Regions from separate parts of the Homo sapiens genome. Here all the other regions are reported to be linked to region 1. The links are microRNA targets in miRTarBase. Many come from high-throughput screens and were not tested one by one. Region 1 holds a microRNA gene; each other region holds the end of a gene's coding sequence.

The links. The annotated mature microRNA hsa-miR-661 reads UGCCUGGGUCUCUGGCCUGCGCGU and lies in region 1 at 2,354-2,377, shown strand. An mRNA with a match to its seed (bases 2 to 7 or 8) in the 3' UTR can be bound and repressed. Matches are read on the target gene's strand: a 7mer-m8 pairs with bases 2 to 8, a 7mer-A1 pairs with bases 2 to 7 and ends in A, and an 8mer does both.
Region 2: miRTarBase lists PRRG4 as a target of hsa-miR-661. Seed matches in the 3' UTR shown: 7mer-m8 at 40-46.
Region 3: the mRNA of NDUFV3 is a reported target of hsa-miR-661. Seed matches in the 3' UTR shown: 7mer-m8 at 3,391-3,397, 7mer-m8 at 2,853-2,859, 7mer-A1 at 2,393-2,399 and 7mer-m8 at 1,041-1,047.

The regions. Positions count from the first base shown.
Region 1 is chr8:143,943,517-143,947,582 of GRCh38, reverse strand. MIR661 (microRNA 661) reads left to right here and starts at 2,304; the gene lies at 2,304-2,392. LOC124902040 (a long non-coding RNA gene) reads right to left here and starts at 3,719. Exons shown (of 2, transcript XR_007061144.1): 1 at 3,413-3,719; 2 at 1-2,017. It also overlaps a transcript of PLEC not described here. RefSeq lists enhancers at 1-86, 87-874 and a silencer at 3,403-3,672.
Region 2 is chr11:32,852,853-32,856,918 of GRCh38, reverse strand. PRRG4 (proline rich and Gla domain 4) reads right to left here. Exons shown (of 6, transcript NM_024081.6): 6 at 1-3,623. The coding sequence ends at 3,392. Among named protein-coding and RNA genes, the nearest start is that of PRRG4, 25 kb to the right of the region's middle.
Region 3 is chr21:42,908,513-42,912,578 of GRCh38, reverse strand. It overlaps NDUFV3 (NADH:ubiquinone oxidoreductase subunit V3), which reads right to left. Exons shown (of 4, transcript NM_021075.4): 4 at 1-3,715. The coding sequence ends at 3,558. Among named protein-coding and RNA genes, the nearest start is that of ERVH48-1, 15 kb to the left of the region's middle.

The sequences.
Region 1 (4,066 bases):
AGTAGAGACGGGGTTTCGCCATGTTGGCCAGGCTGGTCTTGAAGTCCTGACCTCAGGTGATCCGCCTGCCTCAGCCTCCCAAAGTGCTGGGATTATAGCTACCGCCCAGCCCTAATTTACATTGCAAATGGCGATGCTTTGCCTGGCTCAAAATTCTGAAGGAACCGAGGATTGTGTGGAGGAGACGCCAGCTGAGCGCTGTCCATGCACCAGCAACGGGCAGGGGCCAGGTAGCCGCCACCACGGTGAGCGCTGTACACGCACAGCACCTAGAGCTGCTTCCCACAGCAAAGGGCAGGGGTTGGGTAGCCACCATGACTTCCCCTCTACACGGAGGACACGCCTGTGCCTTGACCTCCCCCCTTGACCCTCTGTGGCCCTGCGTCAAGGAGGAAGCCTGGAGGTGGCCTGGCTGCCTTGCCCTTCTTCCCAGCCACAGGGTGCTCTAGGTGGAGGGACTATGGCCCGGCCAGCTTTCCACAGGGATCACTGGCTTGGCCGAGTCACCCGTTTGCGGGATTTCTGTAGATCGCCGGCAGGCTTCTAAGGGGTAGTTACGATGGGATTTGATTTGCACTTCACTGGTCAGCAAGCACCTGGGTGGAGAGGTATGGAGAGGGGAGGCAGGTGTCACCATTGCCCCTGGACAGATGCCTGGGGCTGTGCTGGTTGGGGAGGACTCAGGTGGAGGAAGAGACCACCTTTGGGGCTGAGGAATGTGAGTCTCAAGGAGTGGGGTGTGGTGGGCAGTTTGGGGCTCTGCTCCCGCCTGGCTCCTGAAATACCGCTGGGCACATGGATGCCTGGAATGTGGGTGGGAGGGTGGGAGGGCAGGGCTGGGCTGGTGGGGCCTGCAGCGGGAAGGGGAGGCTACAGGGTGGGGTCTGCTGGGCGGGGGGTCTGCTGGGCGGGGCAGGAACAGTAGGGAAGACCCGTGGGCTGGGGCCGGAGGGCTCTCTGGGATTGCAGGCAGGCCAGTCCCCTGCACCCCCAGGCAGGTCTGCTGGGCTGGTCTGACCCGTCAGTCGGCTGGGCTTCATCTCTGCTTACTGACTAAGGGGTGGCTGCGAGGAGGAGCCGCTGCTACCAGGGCATGAGTGGGCCCTCCCTCTGCCTCCCACCCCTTCCCTCCTTCCTGCCTCGCCTTCCTCCCTGCCGGCTCTCGGAGCAGCCTGGCCTGTGTGGCAGCCATGGACAGGTACAGCATGGAGGAGCTGATTCAGCTGGGCCAAGGTAGGGCAGGCAGAGCTGGGGGCTGTGGGAGGCAGAGGAGAGGGCCGGGGCCGCCTCTGGCAGACCTGTCTCTTCCCGTTGTCCACCGTTCTGTGCCGTCAGACCTGGGATGCAGGGATAGGCACAGCCCCCTCTCGGAGCTGCCCCAGGGGTGTGTGTGATGTGTGTCCCGGAAGCACAGGCCTGTCCGGACCTCCGTGGAGTGGTAGAAGAACTGCCCGCTGCCAGCCTGGGGCACTCCTCCCGCCAGGAGCTGGTTCTCACCCAGGCCATTGAGTCAGGCTCCTCTGAGGCTTCCCCAGCACGTGGCAGGGAGTGGGCTGAAACGTCCGGCCTGTCGGCCCCTGCCCACTGCTGGCCAGATGCTGTCCTGGGCTCAGCTGGGAGTTGGGCCCTTTCTGGCATGCCTGGGTATCCCTGACCCTCAGGGCTGCCTGGGCCCGCCCGACCCCTGGCCGCCCAGAGTGGGCCACTGCAGGCATTTCCCTCGGCCGCACGTTTTTGAGGTGTGGGGCTGGAGAGCAGGAGGCTGGGGTGGGCCCGGCCCTCTTGTTGTCCGCGGGCTTCCCAGCATGGACCTGGGTGGCCTGCCCAGTGGCCCGGGGCCAGGCTGGTTCACTGTGCCTTGCTGTGGGCTGAGGTAACTACACTGGAGGCCACCTGGGCTCAGATGGCAGCGTGCGGGACAGCAGGCGGCGCCTCAGGCTCCTGGTCTGTATGAGGCCTTCATGGTATAGGACTTCATGGGGTTTGCTGAGGGTTCCATGTGGTGCCAGGAGCGACGCTGTGGAATGGGGTATACCGTCAACGTGCATTCTCCTGGGCCTGAGGGGTGCGCCCAGCAGACAGGGGTCCCAGGAAGAGGAGCAGGACTGTGCGTGTCCCACGTCCTGTTTCCCCGGCTGCATTGGGATCTGATCTGCATAGGATATGCTGTGGGCCTGCCTGTGGCCCGGCTCTCTGACCCAGGCCTTCCACAGAGCAGGGCTTCGGGACTCCTGGGTGGAGCCAGGCCAGTCTCCTGCCGTGGCCCAGGAGAGGCGTCTCCATCCCAGATCCCTGGGACCCCAGGAGAGGCTGTGCTGTGGGGCAGGCGCAGGCCTGAGCCCTGGTTTCGGGCTGCCTGGGTCTCTGGCCTGCGCGTGACTTTGGGGTGGCTGTCCCGGCCACCGGTGGGGCCAGGTGCTGTGTTGAGTGACCTGCGCAGGGCCCTCTGGGAGAATGGGCGGCCTCTTCTCTTGGCCCCTGTGGCCTTTCCAAGAGCACCCCCTGGCTTGGCAGGGCAGGTGGGTGGGGACTGCACCGCCTCCTGCAGGGACGTGAGCCCGCACCTCCCGCGCCCTGCTCTATTATATTAGAACCCCCTGTGGGAGCTGGGGGACCGAGGTGTCGGGTGGCACCGTCCAGCCAGACCTGACTGCAGCGGGGCCTGGGTGCCCTGGCGCCGTGCGTCATGTTCCAAGTCTGGGTGGTGACGGTCCTTGCGCGCCCTCCTCGGATATTTATATCCCCTGGGCCCCTGCCCACTGCTCCCCTCCCCCACAAGCTGCTGCTGACAGCAGCACGGCCGTGCCCTCCTCCCACCCGACGCTGCCGCCAGTGGCTTGTGCCTCCTCCGAGGGGCCTGTGACCTCCCACACCCCTGGCCCGCTCCGTCTGCCCCGTGGGCTCCTGCCACCGTCCCCGATGAAGATCGTGCCCGGTAGGTGGGCAGCCCTTGAAAGCCTTGTGAAATCCTGGCCCCTTGCTGGGGACAGGGGCCAGAGGGCTGGGGCTGAGGCTGGAGGCCAGGGGCGCTGTCCCTCGCCCTGCACACAGCCTGCCTCATGTGCCCTCACCCAGACCCCCTCAGCCCTGGTCTGCAGTCTCACTTTTGGGGTGTTGGGGCTGGTGAGGAGGGCGAAGTTGAAGGAGTGCAGTGGGTTCAGCTGCAGGCTTGAGGTGGGGGCTCTGGCATCCCTCCATGCCTGCCAGCTGTCCCCAGAGGGCAGCCTTGGAGGCAGAGTGGGCTGCTCGGGCCCCTCTTCTGGTGGGGACAGCAGGGGGAGGCTGGGAGGGAGGGAGGGTGTGTGCCGAGGCCGCGGGCAGTGCTGGGGGGCTGCGGCTTGGCCAGGCGTGCGGCTGGCCCCTCCTCCCGGCGGGTGTGGCCGCGGGGACGCAGGGGTTAAGGCCAACTAACCTTGAGCGTCAGTAGCCCTGCGCAGGGACAGCTGAGCCGGCCGGGTGGGGAGCGAGGGTGGGGAGGCGCCGAGGGCCGGACCCGCGGAGGGAGGAGGAGAGGAGGCGGGCGGGAGCTGTTGTGGGGCTGCCGCCGCGTATGGGGCGGTCCTGCGGGCAGGGCAGGCTCCGGTCCCGGCGCTCCCCCTCGCTCGCCCTGCACGCAGGGAGGGGGCTGTCTAGCCTGGAGCAGCCGGTTCCCAGCGCAGGAAGGGCAGCCCTGGCGGCTCCGCGTGGCGGCTATGGAGCCCTCGGGCAGCCTGTTTCCCTCCCTGGTGGTTGTGGGTCACGTTGTCACCCTGGCCGCTGTGTGGCACTGGCGCAGGGGACGTCGGTGGGCGCAGGACGAGCAAGGTAAGCCCCGCTGGTGGCTGCCAGGGACTCGAGGCGGGGCAGAGGGGCCGCCTGCCTCCCGCCCCTTCATTCCCTGCGCCCTCCCCTTCCTGTTTCCAAGCTGAATGTCAGTGAAAGCAGTGTTGCCCCTCCACCCCACCCTGCAGTGTAGACCCTGACCCTGCTGCAGTCCCAGGGCGGGGCGGGCTCTGCAGTGGCCCTCAGCCTGCAGCCTGTGCGGGACAGGTGGGTGGAAGCGGAGGCCGGCAGGGCAGGAGCGTCC
Region 2 (4,066 bases), not on the chromosome of region 1:
TCAGGCTACAGTGAGTTGTGATTGCACCACTGCACTCCAGCCTGGGTAGCAGAGCAAGACCTTGTCTCAAAAAATTAAAAATAAAAATACTTTGACATAGTCAAAGTTTGTGCTCTCTTTAATTTTTTTCATTATCAAAAGAGAATATTCTATATGGAATTGTCTGTCCTACCAAAGGTATGACCTTGTAAATGTGTATTTGTCTTTTCAATCCAATTCTCCTTTTATATCCATATTTTACTCATTTCTTAATTGTAATAAAGTGGAAAACTGATCTAATTATATATAAAACCTTGTGTCAAAATAGATTTAATGATTAACACTAATCAATTGCCAGGAGACAAAACACAAACAAAACAGATAAACCAAACAAAACTAAATCTACCACCAAACTTACAACAGGAATAGAAAATGGTGAAAGCAACAGAAATATATGTGACTGATACAATGTTGAGATACTTTCCCTTCAATCATTATAAGCATTTGTCAATAACAGTTCTATCATATTTTCCTTTTTATATTTAAAGTATCATGATCTCCACATTGGATGCTCTATAAATATCACAATCTTAATGATGAATTCTAGACTCATTCAAGTTAGAGCAACTGCTTTACACAAAATGATAGCAGTAGACAAATCTAGGCAGCTGCTTGGGTGGGGTGGGGTTCTCACAGGTTCTGAAGCTAGCTTGCAGTTAGAATTTTGGGAGTCAATAGAAGTAAATGAATTCATGAAATATTTCAAATTATGATTCAGTGCAAGATACATACATATCTTATAATTCTATTCATCATAAATATTTTCATATGTATATGAGAATACATCTAAATATATGTAACATGTACATATATAAATGTATGTATATATGAGAAATGCTTGTAAATTTCTGTCCCAAACTTAGAATTATGTACAAGATCCCTGAATTTCATAATTCGAGGCAGTGTAATTTTATAGGCATGACATGGGACTAGAAAAGTGTGCTCACTCATTCTAAACCCAGTTGTCACCAACCTGCTAGATTCTGGGCAAGTTGTTCTTCCATGCCTTAGTGTGATTATGGCAAAGTAGAATTTGCCTGTAGCCCTTTAAAGAGGATTAAAATAAGTGCAAAGTGCAAAGTCACATGAGCAAAAGTGCTTATGTAAAGCCAAGACACAAGGAATAGCAAGATTTTTATATGCAACGTGGGTAACTTTTAAAAGCAAGTTAGATTTCCTAATTAAATGTAAATGTTGCTAGATGATTTATTTGCAACAAGCAACAAAGAGACTGAGAATCTAAAAGGATAAAGTCTTTGGCAGTCTGTAATGATTAAGGACTTACTTTTATCTGCCTTAAGATGATGCATCTTAAAAGAGAGACATACACTCACATATGCACTGTAATATGATTTATGCTTTCTAAACTTTTAATTTGGTAGGAACTATCAAACATGTGGGTTTGCAGTCTCACTCCTGTAAAAATTATAAAACAAAATAAACAATGATCATTTTATAAGTGATCCTAAATGATAAGAAAATGTAATAGCCTGGCAAAAACATAAAGCACAGAAATTTCTATTCTATTTTTCAGGAGTATGTTATTTCTTGAGCTCCTGGAAGAGGAAACAAACTCACATATACCTACATACCCACCCAGATAAATTTGTGTGCATATACTCCAGAAATTTATAGCTTATATGCTGCTACATTCTTAAGGAAAAACTGGTTATACATATGATTTAGAAGAAGAGACAAAGAATGGGTTTATATGATTATGGTGTTTTCCTTTTGTGTTCAGACATATTAAGAGATGCAAAAGGTTTCTGGTAACATTAATCAATATTATTTTAAGAGCAGAAAAGCAAATTACTTTTTCCACATTCTCAAACTATTACTTATGAAGTTTAACAAATTTCAAAATAATCATATGTAGTTATACAGAGAGATAATTTTGCAACGAAGATGGGAGTATTTACTAATCAGTAACAGGGGCAACTTCATTAAGTTCTAGTGTCTCCTAGATTTTAGGTCTGTTTATTTGATAGCATAACAACCCTTGCAAATCCTTTTCATTGCAAACTTGTATCTTCTGAAGAACTAACTTCATAGCAAATAGTATTTTTTAGAAGAAGAAAACTACTGACCCCACTACCTATAATAAAACATGACTGACAGCAAGAGTTAAGAACTAAACTCTGCAAAATATGATGACTGCTGTGCAATAATTTAACATATAAAACCAAGTGATTATATTAAGGTCACAGATTTATACTGAAATGTCAAATTCTGTGAAGTATTTCTAACCCCCCGCCAAAAAAATCCTAAGAAAGAGTAGGTCCAATATCTTTTTGGATAATCTTTTTTTTTTTTTTTTTTTTTGAGATGGAGTCTCACTCTGTCGCCCAGGTTGGAGTGCAATGGCACAATCTCGCCTCACTACAACCTCCACCTCCCGAGTTCAAGCGATTCTCCCACCTCAGCCTCCCCAGTAGCTGGGATTAGAGGCACCCGCCATCATGTCTGGCTAATTTCTTTTGTATTTTTGTAGAGACGGGGTTTTGCCATGTTGGCCAGGCTGGTCTCAAACTCCTGACCTCAGGTGATCCGCCCACCTATCCCTCCCAAAGTGCTGGGATTACAGGCGTGAGCCACTGCGCCCAGCCTGACTTTGGATAATCTTAATGGTTAGACATCCTTGCTTTTTTAATATTCAACACAAGAAATCTATAACCTTTATCTGTACAAAGGATCCAAAGAGTTCACTAATTCTACCTATGCTCTTTATAAGAAAGATTTTTTTTGAACCATTAAAACAAACATTACAAAAAAGTGCTTTCTTCTTAACTGCAAGGATATAGAGTCAAAAAGTCTCTTATCAAGCTGATAATGATCAAGTTCAGGTCCAAGATGCAGACAGAACTTCTGTGGTACAGTACATGGACTTATTCTTCCTTTATTCCTTGCAGTTTGTCATAAAAAGTTGGATAGTCATGTCTTTTGTGGTCTTCTTCTTCTTCTTCTTCTCCTTCTCCTCCTCCTCCTCCTTCATCTCCTTCTCCTTCTTCTCTTTTCTTCTTCTTTTCTTTCTTTCTTTTTTTATTTTATTTTTGAGATGGAGTCTTGCTCTGTCGCCCAGGCTGGAATGCAGTGGCGTGATCTCAGCTTACTGCAACCTCTGCCTCCCAGGTTCGAGCAATTCTCCTGCTTCAGCCTCCCAAGTAGGTGGGACTACAGGCATGCCCCATGACGCCTAGGTAATTTTTGAATTTTTAGTAGAGACCGGGTTTCACCATGTTGGCCAGGCTGGTCTCGAACTCCTGGCCTCCCAAAGTGCTGGGATTACAGGCATGAGCCACCATGCCCGGCCTATCAAATAACACAAATTTCTTATACCAAAATGACAAGGTAGTCAGTGAGATGGGAGAGACATAGATTTTTTAAATACCCTAAATCCTTTTGTGTGCCCAGGATATGGTGGTGGTGGTGAAACACTGTGTTTTCTGGTCAGCGCCACTGCCTGTTCATAAGAAGGTAATCCTGCATCCTCCACAGAAGGCGGCAATGGAGACAAGGCAGCCTCCTCAGGTCTTCTGAAAATGATGGAGGGAGTGTGCCTCCCCCTTTCATAGACGGCTGAAGAGCTAAGCAGAGAGACAACATTTAGGTCTAGGAAAGGTAGCATTTTTAGGTTGAGAGGACAATATTTAAAAATCCAACCAACTATCTTAATAAACATTAAACACAATGTATTAATATAACAGTTTTATTTTACCCCCAGACTCTGAAAGTCTTGGTACAGTGGAAAGACCAAGAGCTTTGAGTCAGACATGGGTTTGAAATCTGATCCTGGGCCGGGCGTGGTGGCTCACGCCTGTAATCCCAGCACTTTGGGAGGCTGAGGCGGGCGGATCATGAGGTCAGGAGATCAAGACCATCCTGGCTAACATGGTGAAACCCTGTCTCTACTAAAAATACAAAAAAAAAAAAAAAAAAAAAATTAGCCGGGCATGGTGGCGGGTGCCTGTAGTCTCAGCTACTCGGGAGGCTAAGGCAGGAGAATGGCGTGAACCCAGGAGCAGAGGTT
Region 3 (4,066 bases), not on the chromosome of region 1:
CACCGTGTTAGCCAGGACGGTCTCGATCTCCTGACCTCGTGATCTGCCCACCTCAGCCTCCCAAAGTGCTGGGATTACAGGCGTGAGGCACTGCGCCCGGCCTCCAACAGAACGTGGGAAATCACATAGACCCAAACAATGGCCCCTTGGGTGACCACTGTATTGCCACCAGATGGACTATCAAGAAATCATCTGCAGTGATAGCTACAAAATGCAGAGCTGTGCTTGGTGCTGGCTATTCGGTTTTAAGCCCTTCCAATGGGTGGAGGAGAGTAAACCAAAATCCCAGAAAGACTAGCCCAACAGGACTAGTTCTAAGGGAAGAACTTTATTTTTTTGAGACGGAGTTTTGCTGTTGTTGCCCAGGCTGTAGTGCGATGCTGCAATCTCCACTCACTGCAGCCTCTGCCTCCTGGGTTCAAGTGATTTTCCTGCCTCAGCCTCTTGAGTAGCTGGGATTACAGGCATGCACCAACACGCCCGGCTAATTTTGTAATTTTAGTAGAGAGGGGGTTTCACCATGTTAGTCAGGCTGGTCTCAAACTCCCAACCTCAGGTGATCCATCTGCCTCAGCCTTCCAAAGTGCAGGGATTACAGGCATGAGCCACCGCGCCCAGCCAGGAAAGAACTTTATACAAGTCTCATGCTTTATCTTAAAAATATATGCAAATCAAAATATATTCATGTTCATTTTAATATTAAGGGAATTTCCATTTCCAAAGCATCACCGCCCATCACAGTAGTTCCACGGATCCCAGCTTGAGAACTATTAAATGAAAAACCAAAAAATGCAAATAGCAGGATAGAAAAGTTGTAGGTACATTAAAATGGTTACACCTACCACCACCACTGGGGAATCCTGTAAGATGTTAATGGCTGGGAATGGGGGCTCACGCCTGCAATCCCAGAACTTTCTGGGGCCGAGGCAGGCAGATCTCTTGAACCCTGTCTCTACAAAAAATAGAAAAATTAGGCGGACATGGTGGCCAGTGCCTACAGTCCCAGCTACAAAGTGGGCTGAGATGGGAGGATTGCTTGGGCCTGGGAGGACGAGGCTGCAGTGAGCTGAGATCGCACCACTCCTCCGGGCAAGAGTGAGGCTGTCTCAAAAAAAAAAAAAAAAAAAAAAAAAAAAAAAGGGTGGGTTAGCATAGTGGATTTTAGGTAAGTTTACTATTTTCTTTTTGGTAATGTAGTTTTACCACTTTTATTATAAAAAATGTGTTTAGAAGAATCTGGCTGAGTTGCTAAGTCTCCCGTGTGGTAACACAATTTGAGGCAGATGACCACAATACTAGTTTTCAATTTTGATATTTAAAAAAAAAAATTTTTTTTTGAGATGCAGTCTCACGCTGTCACCCAGACTGAATGCAATGGCATGATCTCGGCTTACTGCAAACCCCGCCTCCCGGGTTCAAGCGATTCTCCTGCCTCAGCCTCTTGAATAGCTGGGATTACAGGCACGCACCACCACAGTTGGCTAATTTTTGTATTTTTAGTAGACACAGGGTTTCACCATGTTGGCCAGGCTGGTCTCAAACTCCTGACCTCAAGTGATCCATCCGCCTTGGCTTCCCAAAGTGCTGGGATTACAGGCGTAAGCCACCGTGCCCTGGCCCTCACCTACATTGGTTACTTTCTCTAAGTCAGACTGGGGGTCTGTCTCTGCAGAGTGCTGGGGGAGCGTGCTCCATGTGATGCACAGGAGCCCCCCACATTGCCCCCAAAGGTGTGACTTAAAGTTATCTATCACAAGGGATGGGAGGTTACTTGGCCAACCCAGAAACCCTAAATAGGTAAAATAGCTCATTGAGTGCCTGTGGCCAGCGGGGAGCAACTTCGTCCCTGCACCGCACAAAACTTCACCTCTTCCTACTCCGTCCCTGCACCGCACGAAACTTCACCTCTTCCTACTCCGTCCCTGCACCGCACGAAACTTCACCTCTTCCTACTCCGTCCCTGCACCGCACGAAACTTCACCTCTTCCTACTCCGTCCCTGTACTGCACGAAACTTCACCTCTTCCTACTCCGTCCCTGTACTGCACGAAACTTCACCTCTTCCTACTTCGTCCCTGTACTGCAAGAAACTTCACCTCTTCCGAATCTCACCAATGAAAATGTCCTCAAGTTTATATAAAATATCTAACAGAGGCAAACAAAACAATTCCCTTCCTTTTCTGATGGTAAAATACTGCAATACAATTTGTTTGCAATGCAGTAGTTAAAATTAGTAACATTCCTGTTCCTTTTTTTTGATTGAGTTTCACTCCTGTTGCCCAGGCTGGAGTACAATGGCACGATCTTGCTCACTGCAACCTCCGCCTCCCAGGTTCAAATGATTCTCCTGCCTCAGCTTCCTGAGTAGCTGGGATTACAGGTACCCACTAGCATGCCTGGCTGATTTTTGTATTTTTAGTAGAGATGGGGTTTCACTATGTTGGCCAGGCCGGTCTCAACTCCTGACCTCAGGTGCTCCACCCGCCTCGCCCTCCCAAAGCGCTGGGATTACAGGAATTATCCACTGCACCTGGCCAAAACTCCTGTTTCTAATGATCAAAAACCAGGGCTGTAGGATTAGAAGTCACTATTACTGGCTGGGTGCAGTGGCTCACGCCTATAATGCCAGCATTTTGGGAGGCTGAGGCAGGTAGATCATGAGGTCAGGAGTTTAAGACCAGCCTGGCCAAGATGGTGAAACCCCATCTCTACTAAAAATACAAAAAAAATTAGCCAGGCATGGTGGCGTGAGCCTGTAGTACCAGCTACTCAAGAGGCTAAGTAAGGCAGGAGAATCACTTGAACCCAGGAGGCGGAGGTTGCAGTGAGTTTAGATTGTGCCGCTGGACTCCAGCCTGGGAAACAGAGACTCCATCTCAAAAAAAATAAAAGAAGTCACTATTACATTATTGATACTCAGCTGATAATCAGTTTAATGCGAAATTGACTAGGCTGAGCACAGTAGAATCACACCGCTCTAAAGCACTTAAAATTCTCTAATTATATGGATTTGCCCAGTGATTCATAACCTTAGAGTTTAAGAAAAATTCCTTGCACATAGTAGATATTCCAAAATATATGTTGGATAATCAGTGTTACTGTTGCTAATTCACCACTCACTGTAAAAAGTGTGAAAGTGGCCGGGCGCAGTGGCTCACGCCTGTAATCCCAGCACTTTGGGAGGCGGAGGTGGGCAGACCATCTGAGGTCAGGAGTTCGAGACCAGCCTGGCCAACATGGTGAAACCCTGTCTCTACTAAAAATACAAAAGTTAGCTGGACCTGGTGGTGAGTACCTGTAATCCCACCTACTTGGGAGGCTGAGGTGGGAGAATCACTTGAACCCAGGAGGCGGAAGTTGCAGTGAGCCGAGAATGTGCCACTGCACTCCAGCCTGGGTGACAGAGTGAGACCCTGTCTCAAAAAAAAAAAAAAAAAAAAAAAGGTAAAAGTGAAACCGATTATGCACAGCGGGCCTTGTGACTCTTGAGTGGATTTTATTTTTGCACTCCAGGATGCAGTGAAGACGGTGGAAGGTTCATCTTCACACCGAGGGCCCTCAGTGTCGAGGTGACTCCCGGCCTGAGGAGGGCTGAGGCATCCTGAATTTTGAGAGTTCGAGGTTGAGGTCTAAGAAGGTGTACGTGCTGTAGTCATGATGCTGCAGGTTCTTGTAGGTAGTGTTGTCAAACGGCTCAGCAGGCACTGGGGCTGGCTCTGCGGAGGAAACACGATGCCCATGAGACCAACACAAGGACAGCTCTTTATGAATGACTCGGCTCACACACAGGCGCTTACCTACCAAGCATTCTTCATCATCCCTATCTGTGAACAGCTCTTTATGAATGACTTGGCTCACATACAGGCGCTTACCTACCAAGCATTCTTCATCAACCCTATCTGTGAACAGCTCTTTATGAATGACTCGGCTCACACACAGGTGCTTACCTACCAAGCATTCTTCATCAACCCTATCTGTGAACAGCTCTTTATGAATGACTCGGCTCACACACAGGCGCTTACCTACCAAGCATTCTTCATCAACCTATCTGTGAACAGTTCTTTATG